Homo sapiens: one gene and its partners. The protein of the gene in region 1 purifies or fractionates together with the protein of each later gene. This does not show direct contact. Each region holds a gene or a part of one and is shown on either strand. Other genes may lie near its edges.

What was found.
Region 2: the proteins of THBS2 (region 1) and ZNF696 purify together in Homo sapiens (affinity purification with mass spectrometry; 2 studies listed by BioGRID and IntAct, with this or other methods). This does not show direct contact.
Region 3: the proteins of THBS2 (region 1) and DPY19L3 purify together in Homo sapiens (affinity purification with mass spectrometry; 2 studies listed by BioGRID and IntAct, with this or other methods). This does not show direct contact.

Annotation. Positions count from the first base shown.
Region 1 is NC_000006.12:169,252,231-169,255,980, forward strand, and holds the start of THBS2 (thrombospondin-2 isoform 1 precursor), read right to left. Parts: upstream 1,617-3,750; 5' UTR 1,494-1,616; intron 1-1,493. UniProt on the Homo sapiens protein: Adhesive glycoprotein that mediates cell-to-cell and cell-to-matrix interactions. Ligand for CD36 mediating antiangiogenic properties.
Region 2 is NC_000008.11:143,294,267-143,298,016, reverse strand, and holds part of ZNF696 (zinc finger protein 696), read right to left. Parts: intron 2,278-3,750; coding exon 1,217-2,277; 3' UTR 1-1,216.
Region 3 is NC_000019.10:32,408,642-32,412,391, reverse strand, and holds part of DPY19L3 (protein C-mannosyl-transferase DPY19L3), read right to left. Parts: intron 1,154-3,750; coding exon 1,020-1,153; intron 1-1,019. UniProt on the Homo sapiens protein: C-mannosyltransferase that mediates C-mannosylation of tryptophan residues on target proteins.

The DNA of each region.
Region 1 (3,750 bases):
TATGGAGCTCTTAAGAGGGTTTAATGACAGGAGCGAACACTTGGCCATGAGCTTAGAACAGTACCTGCATGCAGTAAGCACCACAGAACGGTGTTAGAATACACAGCTCAGGTACAGCCTTGGCAGGCTCTTCCCACCTCCCCACCTCATCAGCCCACACTGCCGGGTACGTCGCAGTCCCCTAAGGACAGCTGTGTGGGGCTGGCCCTGCAGAGGCCAGCCAAGAACAGGATGGTAAATGCGAAAGTTCTGGATGCCCAGCTTCATAAGGACAGGTTAGAAAAACTAAATCAAACTCCTTTGACGAAACCAGATCCTACTGTCTCTGCCTTGAGGTAGATTCTTACAAGAGCAGGAGGCTAACAAAGCATCCCCTGCTGCGGATTGTCAAAGGACAGTGAGGCTCCATCCCACAGGAAGGATGAGCAGCCAGGCTACCTGGCCTCAGCCCATCCAGGGACACCGGGCATGCATGGATGGAGCCACGGATGAGCCAGTGCCGCTCACCCCTGCCCCAGCCTCTGCACGCCACACATCCACGTTTATGCTTGTGTTTTTCCAAAAGAAAGATTTCGGTGCCTGTCTGCAGCAGAATGTAGTTTGAATTTGCAAAGGTCTTTTAAAACTCTTTTCGTATGAACAATCAAAGTAAAAGATAGCTTTGCAGAGAGCTAATTGTTTACCGGCCGTCCACCACCAACAGCAGTCTGATTAAACACCAGACTCCTGGGTGCTCAGCTCCCAGTCCTGGGCAGCCAAACCCACCTTCCTTAAGTGGTAGCCAGGCAACCTGCCAGCTCGCTTTTCATATGCAAACTGCCCCAAGACTGTTAAAAGTCGCTGTGTGTCCCGGCAGTCACAGGATTTTCCATAGACTTACCACAAATACTCTCTAGTTATGTTCAAAACCACTTTTCAGCTGCTAATAATGTTAACAATCAGAGTCTCTCTTTAATCTACTAATAATGTTAACAATCAGAGTCTCTCTTTAATCTACTAATAATGTTAACGATCAGAGTCTCTCTCTAATCTACTAATAATGATGTTAACAATCAGAGTCTCTCTCTAATCTCCAGTTACTTTTCAGATATTCCGGGAGTTGTTTCTAATTCTCTCCTCAATAACAAACTCTCATGTGGAATCTTCTTCTTCGGAAACTGAAAACATAAAGCGTTTACCCGGGTTCCCAGGCAGGTATATACATTGAAATAGCAGCAGCCACAACCCTCAGAGAGGAAGGGGTGCCCGGCTGGTGAAAGCACAGCCACGGAGGAAAAGCTGAGGAGCGGCCACGTGCCTTGCTCTTCAAGCGGGCAGTAGAAACACCACGTGAAGAAACACTTGCCATTTAGTGTTAATAGATACACCACCCACCTTAAGTTAAGAATCGAAATTGCTCCTTTTTCTTCTCCGCTTCTTAGAGTTCGAGAACTCTAATTTCTTAAAATTAGAGCACCATTAAATAATTGATTGAGTTTAAGAAATAATCGTACCTGGTTTGCCAAAAAGATGCAGTGATGACTGGTTTCAGTGTTCCGGACCGAGTCAGAAAGGCGCAGGCTCTGCTGGAGCGAGAGACCGGCCCTGCAGTGCAGGATGCTCCGGTGGACGTGGCCGAGCGGCTCCCGGGCAGCGCGGCTTTATATGCCGCTTCTCCTGTGCAGGGCTGTCAATCAGACACACGAGGAAGCACGTTTAATTCATTCCTTCGAAGGAATGACATCATCCCCCTTCTGATCTCACCATTTGCTCCGAGTACCTGCTGCAGGGGTCCAAGTCCAGCCCCTCTGTACTGGATGCCGTCTCCTCCTCCTGCACCCCGGCCCCTGCCAGACAGGCCTGGGAGGAGCCAGACGGAGAGAGGGAAGGCAGGGACTCACTTTTCCTGTCTTCTCTCAGGAAATAAGATGCTATAAATAACACTAGCAAGATTGGCTAGAACTCCTCATTTTGCTTAAGAGAAAAAAATGCAAGTTCTATGCCTTAAATATGTTTCGAATTACTCAATGTGATATTGGTCTTTCTAAACCAAATGAGTGACTCTCAATAACACATGAAATACATCGGTGAGTATCAATAATCAGTCTGTATATTAATAAAGTTATTATGGTCAATAATCAAGTGTATTATGTGACAAAAATGAAATTTAATATAAAAGGAAGTTGCCAACATTTATCTCAGGCAGTTAGAGGACTGAAAAGCTGTACTGCAGCTTTGGGAAAATTCATTTTTACCCAAATTCTGCTTCATTTGCTCAGTGAGGATCCCCTAGAAGGACGTCTCCCAGTGGACGTGCAATACCCGTAGAAGGGTGTGTCCCAGTGGACGTACAGTACCCGGCCAAGTCCCCTTGGTGCACACTTGCACGTGGCCCCATCACAGGAACAACCTGACGTGCAGGCACAGAGCAAGGACTCGAGAGAACGAGAAGCAGTGGCAGCAGCTAACCCCCGCCCCTCCCACACCTCAGGCATCACCCGCAATCAGGGTGCACTCTGCATGGGGGTGGGGGGCACCGCTTCTCAGAGGTCAGGGTGGACGATGGATGCGGAGGGGCTGCTTCTCCCAGGTCAGGGTATACAGTGGAAAGGGGAAGCTGCTGCTCTAAGGTGGGGGTTGATGGTACATGGGGGAGGGGCTGCTTCTCCCAAGTTGGGCTGGACAGTGGATGGGGGAGGTGCCACTTCTCCCAGGCCAGTGTGAAAGGTGGATGGTGGAGAGGCTGTTTCTCCCAGGTCAGTGTGCAAGGTGGCTGGGGATGTGTTGTTTCTCCCAGGTCAGGGTTAATGGCAGACAGGGGAGCTGCTGCTTCTCCTGGGTTGGGGTGGACCTTGGATGGGGGAGGTGCTACTTCCCCAGGTGGGGTGGATGGTGACTGGGGAGCTGCTGCTTTGCCCGGAGCCACCTGCACCTGCTTCATGTCGGCACCTGCCTGTCAGGTTCCTTCACGTTTGTGTGGAGTTGTCAGCCTGGCCATGGATCCGTCAAGTCCTAGTTAGAGAACATTAAAGCGAATTTCTGTGGACACAACCCTTACTGTGTCTGTGGCAGGGGAGTGTCTCTTAAGCCTCCTGGCATTCCCCCACAGGGGTCCAGCGCTGCAGAGGTCGGCAGGCACCATGAAGAGCAAGCCTCACTTTCTGGCCTCTGTCTTCAGGGAGGATATGCGAGCGGGTGTGGGAGAGGGAAGGAGCTTTCATTTGTGAAAACCTCTGTTTTTCCTAATGGCACCTGTTTATTTATCACTTGGCAAACATCAGTTTCCGACACATGCACAGACAAAAGCCTCCAAGAGTGTATGTGTCATGTTTAAGGTACGTTATTTTGCTTTTTAAGCTATTAGGGACAAAGTCATCATTTGAATTAAAAAGTAGTTTAAATAGATTGATGTTATCTCAAATTCAAAAAAAGTATAAACCAGTTCCCCTTAAAGAATTTTCAGTGGATAATTATCCATTCATCAGTTTGAGTTTTTCTGCCTCCAGGTTAGTTTTTCCTGGGGCCAGAACATGGAGGGCGGCATCCCCTACTCTGCGTGCCACGGCCTCTCCTGTTCCTCAGTCCACAGAATGCGTGTTTCCTGATTAAAGCTGAAGACAGGCAGCTCAGCTGCTCAGCACTTCAGGAGCATGCGGTGAAGACCGTGACACTCACTGGGGAGCAGGAAGGTATGTATTCATGACTCCACGTGCCGATGGGCAGGTACAGAGAAGATGGGCCTCCTTCTGTAAAATCTGGCAGCCCAGAATC
Region 2 (3,750 bases), on another chromosome or scaffold:
AAAGAGACACTTCTACTTTTCTATCTAGAAAATAACATTTTAAAAAATGAAAATATTTTACAGGAAATAACATTTGTACATACTCATAACAGTCTCAAAGAGAAAACGATTCCTCTACCCACAGAACGCTTCTGAAATCACATGTGTGTAAGCCTTTCCCTCCACACCAACCAGCTCTCCAACTCCCTCTCAGACACCAACGCGATGTCCTACAATTTAACTCGATTCTGTCACCAATTGCCCGGAGCTAGTGCAGAACCCACAGGGTAAGGGGTCAGTCCCACAAGACCACCCCGACTTCAGATGCCAAGTGCAGACGGTGGGCCCCGGGGACCCCACGACCCCCTTCTCAGGTTCCAATTTTTTTTTTGAGATGGGTCTCTCTGTCGCCCAGGCTAAAGTACAGTGCCCAGATCTCCGCTCACTGCAACCTCCGCCTCCCAGGTTCAAGTGATTCTCCTGCCCCAGGCTCCCAAGTAGCTGAGATTACAGGCGCACGCCACCACGCCCAATTAATTTTTTGTATTTTTAGTCGAGATGGGGGTTTTGCCATGTTGGCCAGGATGGTCTTGATCTCTTGACCGTGTGATCCGCCCGCCTCGGCCTCCCAAAGTGCTAGGATTACAGGCGGGAGCCACCGCACCCGGCCAAGTTCCATAATTTTCTAAGCACACAGAAGTCGGGACCATATGAACCGGCTGTGAAAAGGCGTTGAAATACATGGATGAACCACCGACCCGCAAGGTACGGGGGAGGACGCGAGGCTTCCATGCCCTGTCTGGGCGCCCCCTTCCTAACTGCCCCCCCACCCCGCCTTCACCAACCCGAAGCCCGAGGCCCTCATCTCATGCAGGGTTTTGATGGAGGCCTGGTTGCGGAGGAATGACCGATTCAATCACCGGCCACTGCCCCGCAGCAGCTGACCGTGGGAGGCGGGGAGTCTCAGAGGCGGGCGGCCGGCCCGGGACAGACCCCTGAGACCTCCCCGCCTCTGGGAATCGCCTCCCGCGGGCAGCGCTCGCCTTCCCCGAGCCCTGTCTCTCCTGATTGCTCCCAAGCCAAGGCGGATGCAGGCCTGGCGAGGCTTTCGCAACCCGAGAACCAGGCGCGCAGCCGGCTGTTACTTCCTCACCGCGCACGGGGCGGACAGGAGCCTCCCCCGGCCTCGGCCTCGCGCCCACCAGGCCGCCGGCATCTCTTCCGCCGCAGCCCCGGCTCACTCGGCGCCATGCACCCGCCGGTGCTGGATGAGGTGGAAGCTCAGGCGGAAGGCGCGGCCGCACTCGGTGCAGCGGAACGGCTTCTCGCCCGTGTGGAGTCGCTGGTGCCGGAAGAAGCCCGACAGCGCCCGGAACGCGCGCCCGCAGTGGCCGCACTGGTGGGGCTTCTCCCCGGTGTGGATGCGGCGGTGCTCGCGGAGGAAGGAGCTGCGGCTGAAGGCGCGGCCGCAGTCCTGGCAGGCGAAGGGCCGCTCCCCCGTGTGCACGCGCTGGTGCTGGAGGAGGTTGGAGCTCTGGCTGAAGGCCTGGCCGCACTCCCGGCACTCGTACGGGTTCTCCCCGTGGTGGGTCCGCCGGTGCCGGACCACGTTCGAGCTGTGCAGGAAGCGCTTCCCGCACTCGCCGCACGCGTACAGCCTCTCCCCGGTGTGGGTGCGGCGGTGCTTGGCGGCGTCCGACCTCTGGCCGAAGGCCTTGCCGCAGTCGGCGCACGCGTAGGGCTTCTCGCCCGTGTGCACGCGCTGGTGCCGGAGGAGGTTGAAGCTCTGGCCGAAGGCCTTGCCGCACTCGGCGCACGCGTAGGGCCTCTCCCCGCTGTGCGCCCGCTGGTGCCGGACCACGTGCGAGCTGTGGATGAAGGCCTTCCCGCAGTCGCTGCACTCGTACGGTTTCTCCCCCGAGTGGATGCTCCGGTGCTTTGCCGCGTCCGAGGAGCACTTGAAGCTGCGGCCACAGGCGCCGCACGGGAAAGGCCGCCCCTTCCAGCTGCCCCCGCCCTCTGCGCCGGGGCCTGCGTTCGGAGGGACGTCTGACTCGAGGCCACTCTGTCCTCCAGTTTTCTCAGAAGTGACCGGGCCTCGAGGGGAACCTCCGGGCCTCTCTCTGGCTTCCTGGTTTTCACAAAGGCCAAGAGACCCCAACGCCCGGGGAGGCCCCCCTCTGTGGCCCTCTCCCTCGGGAGCGCCTGCCTCTGCGGCAGGCTCCGTGCTCTGAGCTGCCTGCACCTCGGCTGACCGGCTGCCACTCGGGGCCTGCGCCAGGAAAGCAGCCTTCACAGCTGAAAAAGAGGCCAGACAGGAACGATTTTAGATGTAAGAGAACGTGAGTCGAGGGTGGCTCTGGCAATCGTGGTGACGACAGAGTGACAGTGATGGTGACGTCAGTGTGCCACAGACACCTTTGATTTTGCCCATTCAGTTCCCGCCTCGTTTTTTTTAGTTTTTTTCTCCTCCCCACCTTCTTAACCCCCATGGTTATGAGGTAGACGAGAATCCTGCACTGCCACTCCAGAAACGGGGCTGTGGGGCCGGATGTGGTGACTCACACCTGTATCTCCGCACTTTCAGAGGCTGAGGCAGGAGGACCACTTGAGACTTGGAGTTCAAGACCAGCCTGGCCAACATAGTGAGATCCTGTCTCTTAAAAAAATAGAATTTTAAAAATATACAAACAGAAACGAGGCTAAACGGGGCTAGAAACAGGGCTAAACCTCTAGCCTCGGCCCACCCAGTCCTGGGAGGGGAGGGGACAGAAACGCAGGCTCTGGGCACTGCCTTACTCTGCGGGACAGCTGGGAAAGCAAAGGAGGCTGGAGACAGCTGGCAGCAAGCCAGGACGGGAGCGAGGCAGATGTAGCAGGAGGCCCGGGGACAGTGGCACCCAACAGAGCCCACGGCCCAGCTCTGCCTTCTGTCTGTCCTTCCTTCCTTTCTTGTGAGCCAGGGTCTTGCTCTATCACCCAGGCTGGAGTGCAGTGGTACCATCATGGCTCACTGCAGCCTCAGGGCTCAAGTGATCCTCCCTCCGCCTCCCAAGTAGGTGGCGCACCTCCAGGTGAGCACCACCACACCAGGCTATTTTAAAAATTTTTTGTAGAGACAGTGTGTCAATGTGTTGCCCAGGCTGGTCTTGAACTCCTGGGCTCAACCCTCCTCCCACCTGAGCCTCCTAAAGTGCTGGGATTACAGGTGTGAGCCACCACACCCAGCCATGGCCCCAGCTCATTCCTTTTACCTTGGACTCCCTGAGACAACGCAGACTCCTTAACAACTGCCCCCAAACACCAAACTCTAAGGGCTTCTGTTATGTGCAAACAGGAGCGTCCTCACTCAGACAGAAATCCGGACCAAGAGGCCAGTCGCGGTGGCTCACGCCTGTAATCCCAGCACTTTGGGAGGCTGAGGTGGGCAGTTCACGAGGTCAAGAGATCAAGATTAGGTGAAACCCTATCTCTAATAAAAATACAAAAATTAGCTGGGTGTGGTGGTGCACACCTGTAGTCCCAGCTACTTGAGAGGCTGAGGCAGAAGAATCACTTGAATCCAGGAGGTGGAGATTGCAGTGAGCTGGCGCCACTGCACTCCAGCCTGGCGACAGAGCAAGACTTTGTCTTAAAAAAAAAAAAAAGAAAAGAAAAGAAATCCGGAACAAGAGCTGGAAGCAGCAACCCACGTCCCATGTGGGCTGGGCGGCGGCGGCGCTGGTCAGGCTGAGCAACCCCATCCAGGCTGCGTTATCAATGGCCCTTGTC
Region 3 (3,750 bases), on another chromosome or scaffold:
GCATATATATATATATATAAAATTAAAAGTTTCACAAAACAATCCTCAACCCTACTAGATGTGATAGTATTCTTTCTTTTTGATTTCATTAAGAAAAATGTTACTCATGACCTACTGCACTAATTTCACAATCTATAACTTGAAAAATACTAATTTAGAATAACTGCTAAATAAATGGAATAAGTTAATGAAAAAGAAAAAACTCACTTGATTATAAAAATTCTGGGCTGGGTGCTATGGCTCATTCTCATATTTTGGAAGACCAGGGCAGTAGGATCGCTTGAGCCCAGGAGTTCGAGACCAGCATGGGCAACAAAGTGAGACCCTGTCTCTACAAAAAAATCAAATTTAGCTTGGTGAGGTGGTGCATGCCTGGGGTCCCAGTGACACAGGAAGCTTAGGCAGGATACTCACTTGAGCCCAGGAGGTTGAGGCTGCAGTGACCCATGTTTGCACCACTGCATTCTAGCCTGGGTGACAGAGCAATACCCTATCTCAAAAAATTAAAATGAAAAATAAAGATTCTGGCTGGACGCAGTGGCTCACGCCTGTAATCCCAGCACTTTGGGAGGCTGAGACAGGCAGATCACAAGGTCAGGAGTTCGAGATCAGCCTGGTCAATATGCTGAAACCCCGTCTCTAGTAAAAATACAAAAATTAGCTGGGTGTGGTGGCACGCACCTATAGTCCCAGCTACTTGGGAGGCTAAGCCAGAAGAATCACCTGAACCTGCGAGGCAGAGGTTGTAGTGAGCCAAGATTGCGCCACCGCACTCCAGCCTGGGTGACAGAGTGAGACTCCATCTCAAAAATAAATAAATAATAAAGAAAAATTTAAAAAAAGATTCTAATATGTTATTTTAAAATAATAAACACAAAAGTTATTTCACTCTATAGTCCAACCTTTCTAGAGATTGGATTCTTTATGGCAAAACTGTGTTGCCTTGGTCATTCATCCACATGGCTTACTACTGGAGATCCCACTGAGTGAATGATACAATGGTCAAAGAAACTCCATACCTTAATATTAGAAAACCATAAATCATTTTCATGTAACGTGGCAAGGTAGACAGATGTAAGAAGTCCAATGCAAAGGGCAATGGTTCCACCAATTGTCAATGACAAAATCTTCCATAATCTTCTACTGGTACAACCTTTTGGAAAAATGGAACAGATAAATAACTAAGTCAGTAAAAAAATCAGAATGTAATAGTTCTACTTCAGATTATCAAGTAAGCTAAGTCTAGCTGCCTGTCACTGGGAAAGCTTTTCCTGTCTCCAGCGGAGGGTCCTTTCTGATTCCACAGACCTGTTTTCATTCTATTACAACTGTTACCCCGTATCTAACTGTCCATGTGTCCATTCTGCCAACTACAACGTGAGCTTCTTGAAGACAAATACATTATCTTATTCATGTTTAATACTGAGGGCCTCTGTCCGGCACAGTTTAACAACCGTAATTTAACTATGAAGTCTGTTAAATGGATGACTAAATGTGTTACGTGTCTAGGACGTAATCGATCTTTTAGATAATCTAGGTACAATTGGTGGCTTATTCTTTAAAAGCTATTTTAAAAACTTGATTACCTAAAAAATAATTATTGTTTTTTGAGACAGGATCTTGTTCTGTTGCCCAAGATGGAATGCAGTAGTGCAATCTCGGTTCACTGCAACCTCTGCCTCCTAGGTTCAAGCAATTCTCCCACCTCAGCCTCCTGAGTAGCTGGGACTACAGGCACATGCCACCATGCCTGGCTAATTTTTGTATTTTTAGTAGATACAGGGTTTCACCATGTTGGCCAGGCTGGTCTTGAACTCCTGACCTCAAGTGATTCACCCACCCAAGCTGGGATCCTAAAGTGCTGGGATTACGGGCATGAGCCACTGCACCTGGCCGATTACCTAAAACTTTTTTTTTAAACCCACAGGTTTTGCAGGAATGCTCTGGGGGGAAAAACCCACAGAATAAATAATCCAACATAACTCAAGTTAAAGGACATATAAACTAGGCAAAATATGGATAGCACATATAAGAAAGCTTAAATACCCTTAACATAAGATGAATACTTTCAGGACAATTTATTTTATTTCAGGACAATTTATTGTCCTGTCAAGATGAATACTGCAGTAGGAAAAAGATTAAGGACATGAACAGGCAATGTACAATAGAAAAAAGTGGCCAATAATAATAACAGACTGAAGATGTTTAAATTCATTAATGTTAAAGAAATGCAAATCAAAACTGTGAGTTATACTTAAATCTTGGCCAATTTGACAGCTTTCAAAATGCTAATACTGTTTTGGTAAGGGTATAAAAAATAGACATCTTCAAACATTGCTGCTAGAAGAATAAATTGGTGCCTCTCTGGAATGCAACATGGCAGCAGTGAGTAAAAGCCACCAAAATGAGCATCCCATTTGGCCAGTAATTCCCAATCTAGGCATGTACCCTGCTGTGGTTTGACTATTCGGCCCCTCCAAATCTCATGATGAAATGTGATTCCCAATGTTGGAGGTGGGGCCTAATGGGAGGTGGTGTGGTGATGGAACCAGAGCCCTTATAAACAGGTTGGTGAGATTCTAGCAGTACTGAGTTTTCATTCTGTTAGTCCTAGGGGAGCTGGTTGGTTAAAAAAGAGCCTGACATCCTGTGTTCCCTGGAAATTGCTTCTACTCTGGTCATGTGATCTCTACACACTGGCTCCCCTAAGTCTTCTGCCACGACTGGAAGCTTCCTGAGGTCTCACTAGAGGCAGATGCTGGTGCCATGCTTCTCATACAGTCTGCAGAACCCTGAGGCAAAGAAACCTCTTTTCTTTATAAATCACCTAGCCTCAAGTATTCCTTTATAGCAACAGAAATGGACTAAGACATGCCCCAAGGAAATAAAGTTTTAAACAAACATATGGCCACAAGGAAATTGATCACAGTTCTGTCTGTATTAGCAAATGGTAAGAAAACCTTTCACTTCTACAGTGGCAGCTATAAAAATACTTTACATAGATGATATTTCAAAAATACGTTAACTGGCTTATGACATGTTCATAACATAATAAGAGAAAAATAGCAAGCTACAAAACAGCACGTGGATCCCAATTTTGCAAAACTGTATACGAATGCTTATGGGTATACATGTGCAGAATATGACATTAAGACAGCAAGACAGTGCCACTGGTGTTAGTTTCAGGATGGGAGTATATTTCTTTTTCTTTGCATTGTTTAAGGTGTTCAGAAAGTACTATTATCCAAAACGTGTTAATCACTCGCTAATGGCTGAGCCAGGTGTCATGACCTCCCATTACAGATTACTTTTGTTAAACTGTTTCCCTGAATTGCTTTACTAGCCTGGCTGGTAAGAATTAACATGGCTGTAAATAATGTAAATTCTGTCAGATATCCAAAATGGTTAATGGGTATGAAGATTTTCATGTTAACTTTTAAAATCCTGACCATGCTTTAGTTACAAAAGCTACTCAGGAAGCAAGAAGTTGGTAATTAATGCTATCTGATGCATCACTTAGCAAGTCTTTACCATTATACAAACAACTGACCAAGTTCTGATTACTTTTCCCACCAATAAAAGAAAAAAAAAAAAAAGCAAAAGAAAACTTCAGGAATTTGACTAATTATAAAGAATTTTTAAAAAATGTTGATCCACCTTTCACTACCTTAATGGAAACTCACCCAAGGTAAGGTTGCCTGGTGTAAATAGTATACACGACCAGAAAAATTAGAGAGAGACTAAAATCTG